Regions from separate parts of the Homo sapiens genome. Here region 1 is linked to region 2. The links come from fine-mapping of genetic effects on gene expression. Tissue or cell type: whole blood. Region 2 holds a variant in brackets; the other region holds the start of a gene. All regions are shown on one strand. Distances are between the middles of the regions.

Region 1 (8,000 bases), 99 kb before region 2:
CGTGAGCCATCGCACCCAGCCCTAAGTAGCTTTCTTATTACCTTCTCCACTGCCACAAATCAAGGTCAGGCTAGCATCATCTCTTGCTCTACGACTGCAACGGCCTCCCAACTGGTTTCCTTGCCTCTAGACTTTCCTCCCTCCAATCTGTTCTTCTTACCACAGCCAGAGTGATTGTTATAAAATGTAATTCTGCTCACGTCACTACACTGCCTAAAGTCTTTAAATGATTCCCTGTTGTCAAAACCAGTAGCAAAGATGGAGTGAAATCACAAGCCCAACATGGAAATGGAAGGAAGGGGTTTAAGATACTGGCTTCTATTGCTCACAAGCAAAGAACATTAATTCATGTCTGTAACCATTTACGACAGAAAGAGTCCAAAATAATAAAAATATTGCCTCCTCAAAAATGTGTCTGTCCTCATTGTACAAGGACATAGATCAGAAATATTCTCTAGATCCCACATAAATCACCTTAGAATATGTGGCAGTCATTTAGAAATCAGAAACTGGTCGGGCACGGTGGCTCACAAAAAATACAAAAAATTAGCTGGGCGTGGTTGTGTGTGCCTGTAATCCCAGCTACTGGGGAGGCTGAGGCAGGAGAATCGCTTGAACCAGGGAGTCGGAGGTTGCAGGGAGCTGAGATTGCACCACTGCACTCCAGCCTGGCAACACAGCAAGACTCTGTCTCAAAAAAAAAAAAAAGAAAAAGAAAAAAAAGAAATCACAAGCTAATGTAATCTGGTTGGCAACGCCAGAAGTTAGGAGGAGTAACTGGATAACAATAGAAAACTTTAAATATTTGTTCAACAATTTCTTACTAAATATTTCCTACTGCAAGTCACTGTGGATGTGCAAGAAATACTTTCTACCTTCTAGAACCTTACAAGGTAGTAGGCAAGATCACATATTTCAATGAGTATCAAAACTATTGGCTGAGCGAGGTGGCTTAGGCCTGTAATCCCAGCACTTTGGAAGGCCGAGGCAGGCAAATCACTTGACTCCAAAAGTTTGAGACCAGCCTGGCCAACATGGGGAAACCCCATCTCTAGCAAAAATACAAAATGCAGGCCTCACGTGGTGGTGCACGCCTGTAATCCCAGCTACTCGGGAGGCTGAGGCATGAGAATCACTTGAAGCTGGGAGGTGGAGGTTGCAGTGAGCCAAGATCACGTGACCGCACTCCAACCTGGGTGACAGAGCAAGACTCTACTGAAAAAAAAAAAAAAAAGAATGTGGCCTTATTTGGAAGTGGGCCTGTTGTAGATGTAATTAGTTAAGATGAGGCCATACTAGAGTAGGGTAGGCCCTTAACCCAATATAAGGGGAGAGACAGGAAAGGAGAATGCCACCTGAGGATAGCGGTAGATATTGGGGTGATGCCACTGCCACTGCAGGTCAAGGGATGCCATGGACTAATGGTCACCACCAAAGGCTAGGAAGAAGCAAAGAAGAATTCTCCCCTACAAGTTTCAGAGGGCACATGGCTGTGTTAGGTCATTCTTGCACTGATATAAAGGAATACCTGAGACTGGGTAATTTATAAAGAAAAGTGGATTAATTGGCCCACAGCTCTCCAGGCTGTACAGAAAGTATGGGGTCAGCATATGCTTCTGGTGAGGCCTCAAGAAGCTTCCAATCATCAGTTGGAGACAACATTGGAGACAACAGCAACAGGAAGGTCCCTCTCACCTTCCTCTCGCTCTTCTCCCCTGAAGCAGGCCATAGCACTAGCAAAAGCGTCTCAGGCCTTCCCCTGAAGGCAGACCTAAGACTGTTATTCAAGAGGTGCCCTCCCTCTACCCAGACAAAGGAACATCCTTATCTCTGAAGACACAGGACCACAGAGATAGACTTCTGCCTTCTCGGCAGAAGGCAAAGGGGAGCCAGCATGTCACATGGCAAGAGAGGGGGCAAGAGAGAGAGTGGGGGAAGGATCAGGCTCTTTTAAATAACCAGATCTCATGTGAACTACTAGAGAAAGAACCCCTCATCCAAGGGGATGGCACTAAACCATTCATGAGGGATCCACCCTAATGATCCAATACCTCCCACCAGGTCCCACCTCCAACACTGGGATCACATTTCAACATGGGATTTGGAGGGGACAAACATCCAAACCATATCCAATATCCTTGCCAACACTTTGATTTGGGACACCTACCCTCCTAAACTGTGAGACAACCAATTTCTATTATTCCCCAGTTTTGTGGTACTTTGTTATAGTCACCCTAGGAAACGAATGTGACAGTTTTATAGTTAGGTTATAAACAAAATGTCGTGAAAGATCATTTCTAGCAGCCCTGGAGCTTGTAAAGGACATGGCTTTGTGCTGAGCTCTAGCAGCATGGTTTTGGTACGTAGAGATGACATAGAGGAGAAACGGCTTTATGTTCTTCCATGTCCATCCGAATTCTATGTTGAGGTCTAACCCTCCTAAGCAGCCTCTCTGGAAAACTAGTTGAACTTGAACCTAAACCTACTGTCAACTAGGCCACTAACTAATATGACTTTTAAGGCACAAAATCAGGGAGAACAGAATCTTTTATACATGCTTTATTACTCAAGCAGCAGTGTGCAGTGATTAAATACTTACTCGCTTTTACTACATTTCTCTGACACAGCAAAGGGTGACGTCTTCTTCATGGAGACTTTAGTGAGCAGTAGCTAATTTAAAGCTCAGTGTAGGCCGGTCGTGGTGGCTCACACCTGTAATCTCAGCACTTCTTTGGGAGGTGGAGGCGGAGAGGGGTTGGGATTCCTTGAGCCTTGGAGTTCAGGGCCAGCATGGCAACAGGGCGAAACCTAGTTTTTACAGAAAATACAAACATCAGCTGGGCATGGTGGCGGGCCTGTAGTCCCTGCTACTCTGCAGGCTGAAGCAGGAGGAGTGCTTTAGCAGGGAGGTCGAGGCTTAAATGAGCCCAGGTCGTGCCACTGCACTCCAGCTTGGGCGACAGAGCGAGAAGACCCTGTTTCAAAAAACAAACACAAAAATTCATTCTAACCAAAACTGAATGCTAGTAGCAGGAACTGGTATGAAGATTGCGGTCTGGAATCCCTTCTAATGCGTCTGACCTTGCATTGTGAAGTCTTCACAGTGATGCTTCTGGGTTCTATATGATTATCGTCATTGCTTAGCAACCTCTAGTTGTAAATAAATTCTTTAAATTTCCTTAGTCGTTTGCGGGGCAAGGAGAGGGTCATTTACATGCCCTTTCCTTCTCGCTACTCAATCTTAAATTTGGGTTACGAATCAAACTGATGGACCCTACATGGCTTCTACCCGAAATTACAGGTATCTACCGTTCCATCTTCAAGAAAGGGAGGGGTTCCGCCAAGATGGACGAACATAAAAATCACAGGAGGAGCCTTCTAACAATGTGCATTCTTCGCACACTGAGTGGGGAATGGCCTTGTCATGTTTGAAACAGTGCCCCAACTACTCAATGTCCCAGGAACCCCAGTGGAGCGAGTTCTGTACACAGAGAGGGCCAAGATCCACAAATCAGCTAAGGAATCATTTCCATAGTCTCCCTCCCCTATTGAGTCTCGATCCACAAAAGCTATCCCCTGTCCCTCTCATCCATCAAGGGCGTGTTTTTCGCCTCTCCTTCCCCGGCCTCCCGCGTCCGCCCAGCCTGTCCGCATCCAGCCCCGCCACGCCCCATGGGCGGTCCCGAGCTGCGGCCCCGCCCCCTCACCGCCTCCCCGGCCGCGGAAACCCCGCCCCAACGACGCGGAGACCGGGGGCGGCCCGCGGCCCGCGGCGGGCGGGCTGGCGGGGACGGACGCGGGGGGAGGGGGGCGACGGGATGTGGGGTGGGGGCGGGGCCTGGCTGGGCGCCGGGACGGGAGGAGTCCCGGCGGCGCCTCGGACTTTTGCTCCCACAAGTCCTGCCTCGGAGGCGGGGGAGCTGGACCAGCAGCCGCCTGGAGCGTCCGAGTCACCGTCGCCGGGGCTCCCGCGCTCCCCAGAACGGTGGGACGCGGGGCTCGGCAGCCGCCAGCGGAACATGGCGCCCTGGACGCTGTGGCGCTGCTGCCAGCGCGTCGTGGGCTGGGTGCCGGTGCTCTTCATCACCTTCGTGGTCGTCTGGTCCTACTACGCGTACGTGGTGGAGCTCTGCGTGTGTGAGTACCGTCCCCGGGGACTGCGGCGGGGCGCGGGCCGCGGCTAGGGCGCGAGATAGGCCTCTGCGCCCCACACCCGCCGCCTTTCTGGAGCCAGCGCCGGACGCCGGGCGTCCGGCCCCGAACGCGCTCGGAAGCGCCGAGGTTGCTGCACCCGCCGCTTTGTTCAATCCTGCGGCGCGGCCTTGGGGCGACCTGGGGCTCCTGAAGCCTTGCGGCGGCTTCCCGGGTGCAGGTCTGGCCCAGGGAGGCCCCAAGAGCTTCCTGGTTCCCGCCGACACCGGGGGTCTGCATCCTTCTGGGAAGGAACGTGCAGAACGGGAGTAGTCGAGCTTCTTAGAAGGTTTAGGTTGTGTTTGTGGCTTTTTTGGCTTTTGTTCATTTTTTTTAAAAAACCAAATCTGTTCCTTCTGGATTGTTTTTGTTCAAACTGCGCGAGAAGAAACGCCTGTTACCTGTAGAGCCGGCTGTGGCGGGTTGGGGGAAGGGAGGTGTGTCTTTTGGTGGCCTCGGGCTGGAGGCGGGTCAGACCTGGAGGACGAGTAAGCTCCCACTTTTGATTTTTGGTGGTACTCGACTCATTGTAAAATTCGTTTATTTCTACTCTGAATCCAGCCGGCTTTTGCAGAAGGTTAAGACAGAAAGAATGGGTGGGAGGAGACATAACCTGATTATTTTTTTCTTGGCTGATTATTAAGGAGGCTTATATTTCTTATACTCATATTTTGGCGTGTTAATTTTCGTTACTTCCATTTTCCTGATAAGTTCTTAGCACAAAATTCTCATCTGATTCCCTGGAAAAAAGGAGTAGCATTGCAGTATACTTCAAGGATTTAACCTACTGGCTTGAATTGGTTGCCTTTAAGATTGAAGGAAATTGGTTGTCATTAATCAAAAACACTGTTTAGGGGTGACTGCTACATTTGTGATATTGGGCAATTTCTCCAACATTGTTTTGTCTTAAGTAAATTGTTCTTAGGCTTTGAGTATGTGGGTATTTTACACTTAAACTGGCCTCAACTAGGGTGTTCTGTATACATCTGCTGCCTATATCAATTTTTTATGAAAACCTAGGACCAAATGGTAAGTGGTGTTTGTAAACGTTATTGTTATTCCAGAATGTTCTACTCTTAGTCCTTAGACTGAATCTACCATTTTATGAAGGACTGTTAAGTGTTCTTTGAATAACGAACCACATCAGCTAGAAACTAATGTTATGAATGAGAAGAATCTGTACCACCCACTCTTGAAAGTGGCAGAATCAAGACTTCAATTATGTTTGGATTTGTACAGCTTTCAACCAAGTATTTGGTTAAAACCCTAGTTCTATACATGGAAGAGAATGCTTTGGCTCAGAAAATTTATAAGTTTTGAAATTAAAACATCCAGTTTTAAAATTACTTTGTACCTATAGAACGTTTAATTTTGGGACGACTATCCCTGCAGGTAGGCCCAGAATAAATTAGTTGTGGAATACATTTCCAAATAATATTAATCTTTTCAATATCATTGTTTAGTCTCATGCTTTTGGATACCAGAATGTTTACTAAAAATGATGTTTGAGTCAATTAAAATTACTAGATTTTAATATTTCTGGGAGCTACTTCCAGAAAGTGGTAGTGATCATAGGATTCTCATCAACTTATGATGATACCTCCTTTATCTTCTTATTTACTCTGAAGTGGGCATTTATTCTAAAAGTTATGTCATTCCTATTCTGTCAGAAGATTATTCCTACCGTATTTTAATTCCCGTAGTGGTTTTGAAGTAAAGCTGAAGGAACACTAAAAATGTGCATTTATGTTGAGATTCCACAGCTTAACCTGTAGATGGTTTTTGTCAAAAATATTAAGAAATGAGATCAAACAGTGCTGTGAAAAGTCTTAAATTGCTTCTGATTTCTTTCACCACTTCAAATAAAGAAGGAGAAATGAACATGAATTGAGAAGTGCCATGTGCTAGTGGGCATAGAGGGGACATTTCATTCACCCTCTCCTTTAATTCTTTCAGTATGTCACAGCATAGGTATCTCTACAGGTGGAGGACGTGAGACTGAGCGAATAGGTCCTTTTGGTTAGGTCACACAATTGATTATTGGAATGTGACCCACATCTTTCCGTTCTTTCATATAACTTCAGTAAGCTATGAGGGTCAATGGAACTGTAATTGTTTGGTCCATAATGGTGTGGGGGGATAAAGGGGTTGGCATATTTTTGGAGATCACTTAGTTAGGCTTGAGGCCCATTCTGTAGAGATTATACCCTACAATTTCATTAAGTTAAAACATTCTATAACTATGGCCTGATGCTTGGCAGAATCTTAAAATATTTGGTGGTGAAAGGTCTTATGTAGAGGCTGTATTAACTTCTGAGTTATCTCATTTTAACTAGAGAGAATTTGGGAGGTCTGCAGTGTCACTGGAGTATAAAATAGTTGAGCATAAAAGTGCATTTACTCATATTAAAACTATCCTTTAAACTACTTGTATGTATTTGTTTTCATAAGTACTGACCCTCCCACTGAAATATGTATAGATATATTACTTTATAGGAGGACTTAAATGGAGGGAAGTGTGAGTTTTACTTAAAAGTGCTGTTTTAATACTTTTATAGGATATTCTTTTTATTTATATATGTATTTTTTGAGCCAGAGTTTCACTCTTGTTGCCCAGGCTGGAGTGCAATGATGCGATCTTGGCTCACTGCAACCTCTGCCTCCTGGGTTCAAGTGACTCTCCTGCCTCAGCCTCCCAAGTAGCTGGGATTACAGGTGCCCGCCACCATGCCCAGCTAATTTTTTTTGTATTTTTAGTAGAGACGGGGGTTTCACCTTGTTGGTCAGGCTGGTCTCAAACTCCTGACCTCAGGCAATCCACCCACCTTGGCCTCCCAAAGTGCTGGGATTACAGGCATGAGGCATTGTGCCCGGCCTATAGGATATTCTTAGATTCTGGTATTCTTTATCAAACTAGGAGGAGAAGATCATAATTATATCTTTACATGTATGTATTAATTCATTTAATCTTAATAATGATCCCCATAAGGTTAAGTAATTTGTCCACGGTTATAGAGCCAGTAAGTAGCATGGTAAGAATTGGAATTCAAGGGGTTTGGCTCCAAAGCCCATGCTGTTAACCACTATACAATTAATGACTAATCTATTTGGTGTCCAGATCTGGACACTCAGGGCAGATTTCAGTCCTGTATATGATATATTTATATAAAGTACTTTTCTCCTAAAAGGCAGCTGCAGAAGATTCCTAAATATCTCAGACAATAAAAATACCTGGCCCACAGTTGGCTGTAAGTTGAACAAATTGTTGATTACCAAGAGGCCCTCATTCCATCTTACCCTCTGTAACTTGCTAATTGTGTAATTAGACACACACACACACACACACACACACACACACACACACACCACTTCACTGGGAGTAATACTGAGGACAAAATTGAGGAAGAGGGTAATGCATGTAAAACGGCCATCTCACAGGAGTGATAAGCTGAGAAGCGAAGATTAAGTAATTAGTAATATTGGTCCTTGATTTTAAATTAGACTGAAATTCTCGTATGATTTTTTTTCCCCAGGGTTGATATTTAAAGTACGAATGGATTGAATAACTTCTTCTCTTTGGTCAAGGTGGTTATTTTTGAGGCAAGTGCTAATTCTGGTTCCCAAGGTTTTATCAGAATATCTTGTTGTTCAGGTCATCTTGTTAGTGGATGTGTACCTCTTCTTTGGCATGTAGAGAATCTTAGAACTTAAAGAGATTTTAAAGATAATCTCATTCAGTCCCTTTACTTCTGATGAAACTATTGCTCAAAAGAGCTATGTTGGCCAGGCGTGGTGGCTCACACCTGTAA
Region 2 (8,264 bases):
TGCCAAAGGTGGGGGCGGCTGTGGCAATTTCTTAAAATAAGACAACAATGAAGTTTGCCTTGGCAATTGACTCTTCCTTTCGCGAAAGATGTCTCTGTAGCACGTGATGCTGTTTGATAGCATTTCACCCACAGTAGAATTTCTTTCCAAATTAGAGTCCATCCTCTCAAGCCCTGCCACTGCTTTATCAACTGAGTCGACGTAACATTCTAAATCCTTTGTTGTCATTTCAACATGTTCATGGCATCTTCACCAGGAGTAGATTCCGTCTCAAGAAACCACTTTCTTTGCCCATCCATATAAAGCAACTTCTCACCTATTTAAACTTCATCATGAGATTGCAGCAATTCAGTCACATCTTTGGGCTCCACTTTTAATTATAGTTCTCTTGCTATTTCCACCACATCTGCAGTGACTTCCTATGGTAAATTGACCAAAGTCTCAATTGAGCTTTTCGAAGGCATCCAGGGTTGGAATCGACTTCTTCCGAACTCCTGTTAATGTTGGCATTTGACCTCCTCCCATGAATCATGAATGTTCTTAATGGCACCTGGAATAGTGAATTATTTTCAGAAGGTTTTAATTTCTTTTGTCCAGATCCATCAGAGGATTCACTATCTGTGGAAGCTATAGCCTTACAAAATGTATTTTTTAAATAATAAGAATTGAAAGTCAAAATGACTCCTTGATTCCTGGGCTGCAGAATGGATGTTGTGCTAACAGACATGGAAACATTCATCTTCTTGTACATCTCTATCAGAGCTCTTGGGTGACCTGGTACTCAATGAGCAGTCACATTTTCAAAAAATCTTTTTTTTTCTGAGCAGAAGGTCTCAACAGTGGGTTGAAAATATTCAGTAAGTCATGATGTAAGCAGATGTACTGACACCCAAGGTTTGTTGTTCCATTTATAAAGCACAGACAGAGTAGATTTAGCATAAGTTTAAGTGCTTTAGGATTTTTGAATGGTACATGAGGACTGGCTTCAACTTCAAGTCACCAGCTGCATTAGCCCCTGACAAGAGAGTCAGCTTGTCCTTTGAAGCTCTGAAGCCAGGCATTGACTTCTCCTTTCTAGCTATGAAAGTCTTAGGTGGCATTTTCTTCCAGTAGAAGGCTCTTTCATCTACATGAAAAATCTGTTGTTTAGTGTAGTGACCTTCATCGATGATCTTAGCAAGATCTGGAGCACTTGCCACCTCATCTTGCACTTGATGTTACGGAGATGGCTTCTTTCCTTAAACCTTATGAACCAACCTCTACTAGGTTCCAACTTCACTTCTGCAGCTTCCTCACCTCTCTCAGCCTTAATAGAACCAAAGAGATAGGGTCTTGCTCTGGATTAGGCTTTGGCTTAAGGGAACATTGCGGTTGGTTTGCTCTTCTATCCACACCACGCACACTTTCTCCATATCAGCAATAAGGCTGTTTCGCTTTCTTATCATACGTGTGTTCACTGCAGTAGCACTTTTAATTTTTTTCAAGAAATTTTTCTTTGCTTTCACAGCCTGGCTGTTTGGCACAAGAGGGCTAGGTTTCAGGCTGTCTTGGCTTTCAACATGCCTTCCTCACTAAGCTTAATCATTTCTAGCTTTTGATTAAAGTTGAGAGACATACCACTTTTCTTTCACTTGAATATTTAGAGGCCATGGTAGGGTTATTAATTGGCCTAATTTCAATATTGTTGTGTCTTAGGGAATAAGGAAGCTTAAAGAAAGAGAGAGAGAGAGAGAGAGAACAGCCTCAGTCGAGCAGTCAGAACACACACAACATTAATTGATTAATTCATTGTCTTATGTGGGTGTGGCTTATCATGCCCAAAAACAATTACAGTAGTAACACCAAAGATCACTGATTACAGATGAGTATAGCATATATAATAACAATGAAAAAGGTTGAAATATTGCAAAAAACTACCAAAATGTGACAGAGACAGGAAGTGAGCACCTGTAGACTTGCTCGATGCCATGTTGCCATAAACCTTCAGTTTGTAAAAAATGCAATCTCTGCAAAGCACAATAAAGCCAAGTGCAATTAAAATCAGCTATGCCTGTATAAAAAGTGCCCGGCATATGGGAGATACCCCATGTGTGGTACTTATTAATATTGGTAGTTTTCATGTGCTGCCCCCAGGAATACATAGATAGATTAACTCAAATGAACTCTAAGGAAACTTACGTTAAGTCTTATGTCTCTTTCCTCCAGATGTCATGGGAACAGACATGTCTTGGAGAGGTGCACCCTGGGATCTGTCCAGGATCAGAAACTCTTGGAGCCAGCCCAGCCAGAGGTACTGCCCAAGGACTTGTTCTCCAAAGCTTCCAGTCATGAAAGTGCTCAGCCCAAGGTGGGTGCCAGGGTGACTGTGCCCCAGGGATGGCTGGGCTTCTTTCTCTATCTGGTTCAGCCCAAGCCACTTTAGGCAACTGTGGATTCACAGCAGTACCTCTAACTCTTCCCACCCCATGGAGACCTGGGCATGCATGAAAGGCTAGGAGGACAGCATAGAATTTGGCCACTGGCCCCTACGGCCATGGGTGGTGGTTGGTGACTGAAGAAAGAGATGAAGGCTTGTCAGGGAGGTGCTTGAACCCTGTCTGGTAGCCCGCAGAACCGAGATCAGAGGCTGTGGAGGCACTGCTGCCTCCTGGGCTCTAAATGAGCAAATGTTTGGGAACGACGGTGCCAGAACAAAGCTGCCTGCGCTCCTGTCCTGCCCTTCTCAGCTCAAGTCACACACGTGCTAAGAGGCTTTTGGCTCCAAGTGGCTGGTAGACATTGGTTGACAGATTTGGGATGTGATAAGAGGCTGTTGATTTCATTCGTTTGTGCAATGTCGGAGATAAATTTTAACAGTTAAAACGGGGAAAGAAAAAAAAAAGCCCTAGAACTTTGCCAGCATCACAACTCTGCCTGTTTCTTCTAACGGATTTCTTGAAACTGTCAACTGCCTGAGCTGGAGAAGCCCACTTATAAGGAACGTTGTCATGTGTCTCCAGGGGAGCCAGGACCGTCCGTGGGGTTGGCTGGCCCTTCACAATGTGACCCCACTTCCATGGGCTCCCTCTTTCCTCCTGCACAGCCCTGGGGTGCAGGGCTCCCTCTGGAAGGCAACAGCTTCCAGCGACTCAAAGGCCTGCAGGGTCGTGTGATCCCAGCATCACAGGTCTACCCATAGAACCAGCAATTTTATCAGTAGTATTAATTATCCTCTGCAAAAAGAGACACTGAAAACAAAGTTCCCTTTCTCAAAGAACTCTGATGAGAAATTAAAAAATATATTTGACCTTGGAGG[A/C]TTCGTTGTTTTGGAAGCCACAGAGACCTGCCTCATGCAACTCAAAAGAAGGATTACATCTGTGATGTGTGGGACGGGCACGAGGGGCCTCTACAACCAATCTACCCTGTGTCTTGACTTCTCTGAGAGTTGCATTGGGTTCAACAGTGATTCCATTTCCTCCCAAAGGGCCACTGGGAGATAAGCAGCATCGAGCTTATATCCAAAAAGCTCTATGTAGTTTCAAGGTGTTTCCAAAGCACCTCCTCTGATCCTCATACCCTCCAGGGTGGCAGGCAACACAGGGCATTTGCGTTTGCTCTGAGATGAAGATACGACCATAGGGTTGTACCCAGAAGTTCTCATGACTGGACATCCAGCTCTTTGCACCACACTCCGAAGGGAGAAGTGATCCAGGTTGCCCTTCTGAGAGTGAATATCACTTCCAGCACAAGCGGCAGCCTGCATCCCAGCCAGCCCTGCTGATGCCTCCAAGGATGTGAGTGAGAGTTGCCCACATCATGGGAACCCTTTGCTGGTCTGCAAAATATCCCAGAGGTTGTTCCTTTGAACCCTGTGTGGGGAGAGCTTTGACTTAAATGTGTCATGCATAGAATGAACCCCTGCAGGAGTGTGTCACCCCTTGGCTTCCCAGGAAGACCACCCGCTTTTCTGACACTGTCCCTGGAATGACCAATTGTGGCCTTTTTACAAACTCTTCAGGCTCGAGAAGTGCACATCCTCATTTACAAGGGACATGTGGAAAGTCTTGAAATTGGATCCGAAAAGTGTGGTTTCTCCAAGAACTAAAGCTCCCGAAGCAGTTTTGAGAAGAGAGGGACATAGGCTAGCATGGATTCTTTTCCTTTGCTCTTAGGATGTGTGTGATCCCGAAGAGTTTGCCGGCAGGCTATGGGAACTCCATCCCCACACACTCAGCCACTACCTCAGGTGGCAGGGGCCCTGGCTAGGGTTTGGCTGTAATATTCAGGACTGACTGAGCATCCTGCACAGTGGTGAAGGGAGGGGTCCTCTGGAGACCATGCCTCTCCTACAGTAAGCCCCACCCCCAGGTGGGAGGGATGTGCCAGTGCCTTCTCACCCCCACGTGCCTGCATGTTGCCCTTCGTTCTGCTGTTTCCTAATCACACCTGCTCTCAGGAACAGGTGCAACACAGTCCCACTAGGTGCATAGCTACTCACACTGTGACACGGACACTCCCAGGAACACCAGCCCCATAAAGCCTCGGAGGAGAGGGCTAGAATTCTAGGCAACCTTGAGCTAGGGAGGGCTCCTTTGAACTGGGAGATTCTCAATGTCTTTGGCGTCTTATTCTTATCAAAAGTCCCTCTGCAGAAGCCTCGTCTTGGGGATTGGCCAGAGGGAAAAGTTTATGGCAGCACTTGCATCAAAAGACACCAGAGCATCACATCAACCAACGACCAACTGTAATGATTTCACTTTTATCAGTATACACATGATTAGAAATTTTGGAAACTGGACCACTATTCTGTTCTACTAACCAAACACTCAATACCATGAATCATGTGAGAGGACTGTTGCCCATGTTAGGTTATGTGACCTTTTTCTTTTGGCTGGGGATGGCATACTTCATTGATGGTGCATGACAAGCTGGAGCTGCCTAAGCCCCTGTCCTTCCTCCAGGAGTCTGGAATGGAAACTGACTTTGGGGAGCCTGAGTGGGGCAATGACTCCCCAGCAGCTGGGGGTTCACTCTTCCTCTCATGCTCTTGATGGAGCTGGTGGTCTGGGGGTCTTACTCCTTGGAGGCCGTGTGGACCATAAGGTCCACCACCCTGTTGCTGCTGCCAAATTCATCCCAGGAAAGGAGCCTGACAAAGTGGCCATTGAAGGTAATGCCAGTCGTGGCATTGAAGGTAGAAGAGTGCAGGTGCCACTCTTAAAGTCAGAGGAGACAACTTGGTCCTCAGTGTAGATCAGAATGCCCTTGAGGGGGCCCTCCGATACCTGCTTCAGCATCTTCTCATGCCATCATATTTGGCAGCTTTCTGCAGATGGCAGATGAGAGCCACAACCAACATATTATGGGTGGGAACACAGAAGGCCATACCTGTGAGCCTCTTATCTGGCTCAGGGATGACCTTGCCCATAGCCTCGGCCACACTAGTAGATACAGGGATGATGTTCTGCAGCAGTCACGCCAAAGTTTCTCCAACAGTCTTCTGGGTGGCAGTAGTGGCATGGACTGTAGTCATAGATGACCTTGGCCAAGGGTGCCAAACGTTGATAGTGCAGGAGGCACTGCTGACAATCTCGAGAAGATAATTCATACTTCTCATGGTTCACACCCACCACAAACATGGATCTGCACAAGAGCACAAGGGGCAAAGATGACGACAGTTTTGGCTACTTCAAGTGAGCCCCAGTCTTCTCCGTAGTGCTGAAGACGCCAGTGGGCTCTGCACCATATTCAGCACCAGTGTTGCCTCATTTGATGTTGGCGAGATCTTGCTCTTGGAGGATGGAGATGGGCTTCCCTTTGATTACAAGCTTCCTGTTCTCTTTCCTTGACTGTGCCATTGGACTTGTCATGAAATATACTGGAACATGTAGACCATGGAGTTGAGGCCAGTGAAGAGATCATTGATGATGACAGTGTCCATTTTGCCGAGTTGAAAGCTGCCCTGGTGACCAGGTATCCAATATGGCCAAATCCATTGACTCAGACTCTCACCATTGTATCCTGGATGAGGCTGACACTGCATGAGCAGATGGAGCTGTTTGTCGAACGAGGAAGAGAAGAGAGCCACAGCTTTTTTCTTTTAAAAACAGACTTCATTTTCTGAGCAGTTCTAGATTCACAGAAAAATTGAGCAGAGTACAGAGATATCCCAGGTACCTTCCCCCCTACACATGCACAGCTCCCCTCATTATCAACATCCCCCACCAGACTGGCATGTTTGTTTCAATTAATGAACCAACATTGACACATCTCTATCACCCAGAGTCCATGGTTTACCTTAGGGTTCACTCTCTGTGTTGGACATTTTATGGGTTTTGACAAATGCATTATGACATGCATCCATCATTATAATATCAGAGTAGTCTCACTGCCCTACAAATCCTCTGTACCCTACCAGTTCATCCCTTCCTCCCGCTCCCCCCTTGGCAACCACTGATCTTGTTATACTCTTCATAGTTTCACCTTTTCCAGAATGTCATACAGTTGGAATCATACAGTATGCAGCCTTCTCAGATTGGCTTCTTTCACTCAGTAATATGCATTTAAGTTTCCCCCATGCCTTTTCATGGCTTCGCAGCTCAATTCTCTTTGGCGCTAAGTAATACGCCATTGTCTGCATGTACCCCAGTTTATCCCCTCACCTACTGAAGGATATCTTGGTTGTTTCCAACTTTTAGCAAATACGGATAAAGTGGCTCTAAACATCCGTGTGCAGGTTTTTGTGTGGAAAAGGTTTTCAACTCCTTTCATAAATAAGGGGCGTGGCTGCTGGAAGTTAACGCAACTTTTACTTTGCCTTGATGGCTCTCAAGCGGGGCTGCCCATTATAACCACCTGGTGAGCATTTAACAAATCCCTGTACCCACCCCCACCCAGGCCACTTTAAACCAGACTCGGAGATGGGTGGGGCTTGAACAAAGTGTTAACCAACCCATTGGGAGGTCCTGAAGTGCAGCCGGTGTTGAGGATCACCAATTCAGAGGCTGACACTAGATTCCCGAGTTTCTGCAGATTTCTAGTCAGCTTCTCTACCAAGAGATATTTAGACATTGAGAGCAATAAGAAAATGGTTAAATGACCAAGTATTTATGTTTTATAAAACATTTTTTAAAAAATTTATATATATGTGTGTATATGTGTGTGTGTGTGTATATATATGTAGAGAGAGAGAGAGAGAGAGAGACTCACTCTGTTGACCAGGCTAGAGTACAGTGGTGTGATCATGGCTCACTGCAGCCCTGAACCCAAGGGCCCAAGTGATCAAGTGATTCTCCTGACTCAGCCTCTCAAGTAGCTGGAACTACAGGCACATGCCATCACGCACAGCTTTTTTTTTTTGAGACTGAGTCTTGCTCTGTTGCCCAGGCTGGAGTGCAGTGGTGCAATCTCAACTCACTGCAACCTCCACCTCCCAGGTTCAAGCAATTCTCCTGGCTCAGCCTCCTGAGTAGCTAGGATTACAGGCTTGCGCCACCCTGACCAGTTAATTTTTTTTTTTTTTTTGTATTTTTAGTAGATATGGGGTTTCACCATGCTGGCCAGGCTGGTCTCAAGCTCCTGACCTCGTGATCCTCCTGCCTCAGCCTCCCAAAGTGCTGGGATTACAGACGCCCTGCTAATTTTTAAAACTTTTTTGTAGAAACGGGGTCTCCCTATGTTGCCTAGGCTGGTCTCAAACTCTTGGGCTCAAGTGACCCTCCTGCCTCGGGCTCCCAGAGCGCTGAGATTTCAGGTGTGAGCCACTGTGCCTGGCCTATGAAACATTTCTATTTTCATTTCTAGAAAAATCAATGTCATTTTTCTAGAAAGTTTCTATATGAAATTCACATCTGCCCCTTTTCACCCCCTTTGACTGACAACAGGCCCCAGAAGGTCCCCTTTTCATGAATTTCAGCATCCCTGGGCCCAGCCAGGCCACCATGGGCATTCCAATCAATTCCAACTTCTCCCAGCTCCCAGGGGCAACAGTTCTTGGTGTGAGGAACATGGACTTGCCCTTCCCTCTGCACCAGCTTGACCTGGCCAGTTCCTTGTGGCTAACAGAGTGGACATCTGTCACTGTCTGCCTGGGGCAGGGTGAAGACCAGGAGATGTCTGAGGTAGAGGGGTCCTTGGTGGGGGGTGGGGGTGGGGTCTAGGCCAGTCATCTATGTGTTTATGTTAAAGCATTTACATATTTATTTATTTATTTATTTATTTATATATTTTTTGAGACTGAGTCTCGCCCTGTTGCCCAGGCTGGAGTGCAGTGGTGCAATCTCGGC

Evidence for each region. PIP is the estimated chance that this variant, and not a neighbour inherited with it, causes the effect.
Region 1: it holds the start of ZDHHC20, and the variant in region 2 is fine-mapped to the expression of ZDHHC20 in whole blood (TOPMed, PIP above 0.99).

Annotation. Positions count from the first base shown.
Region 1 is chr13:21,455,191-21,463,190 of GRCh38, reverse strand. It overlaps ZDHHC20 (zDHHC palmitoyltransferase 20), which reads left to right and starts at 3,888. Exons shown (of 13, transcript NM_001330059.2): 1 at 3,888-4,137. The coding sequence starts at 4,020. It overlaps LOC124903131 (a long non-coding RNA gene), which reads right to left and starts at 3,644. Exons shown (of 2, transcript XR_007063713.1): 1 at 3,012-3,644; 2 at 2,545-2,808. RefSeq lists a cis regulatory region at 3,647, an enhancer at 3,563-3,732 and a silencer at 3,596-3,975.
Region 2 is chr13:21,356,103-21,364,366 of GRCh38, reverse strand. It overlaps the pseudogene MIPEPP3 and the pseudogene GAPDHP52. Among named protein-coding and RNA genes, the nearest start is that of LINC00539, 15 kb to the right of the region's middle. The variant A/C (reference allele first, on the strand shown) is at 3,296.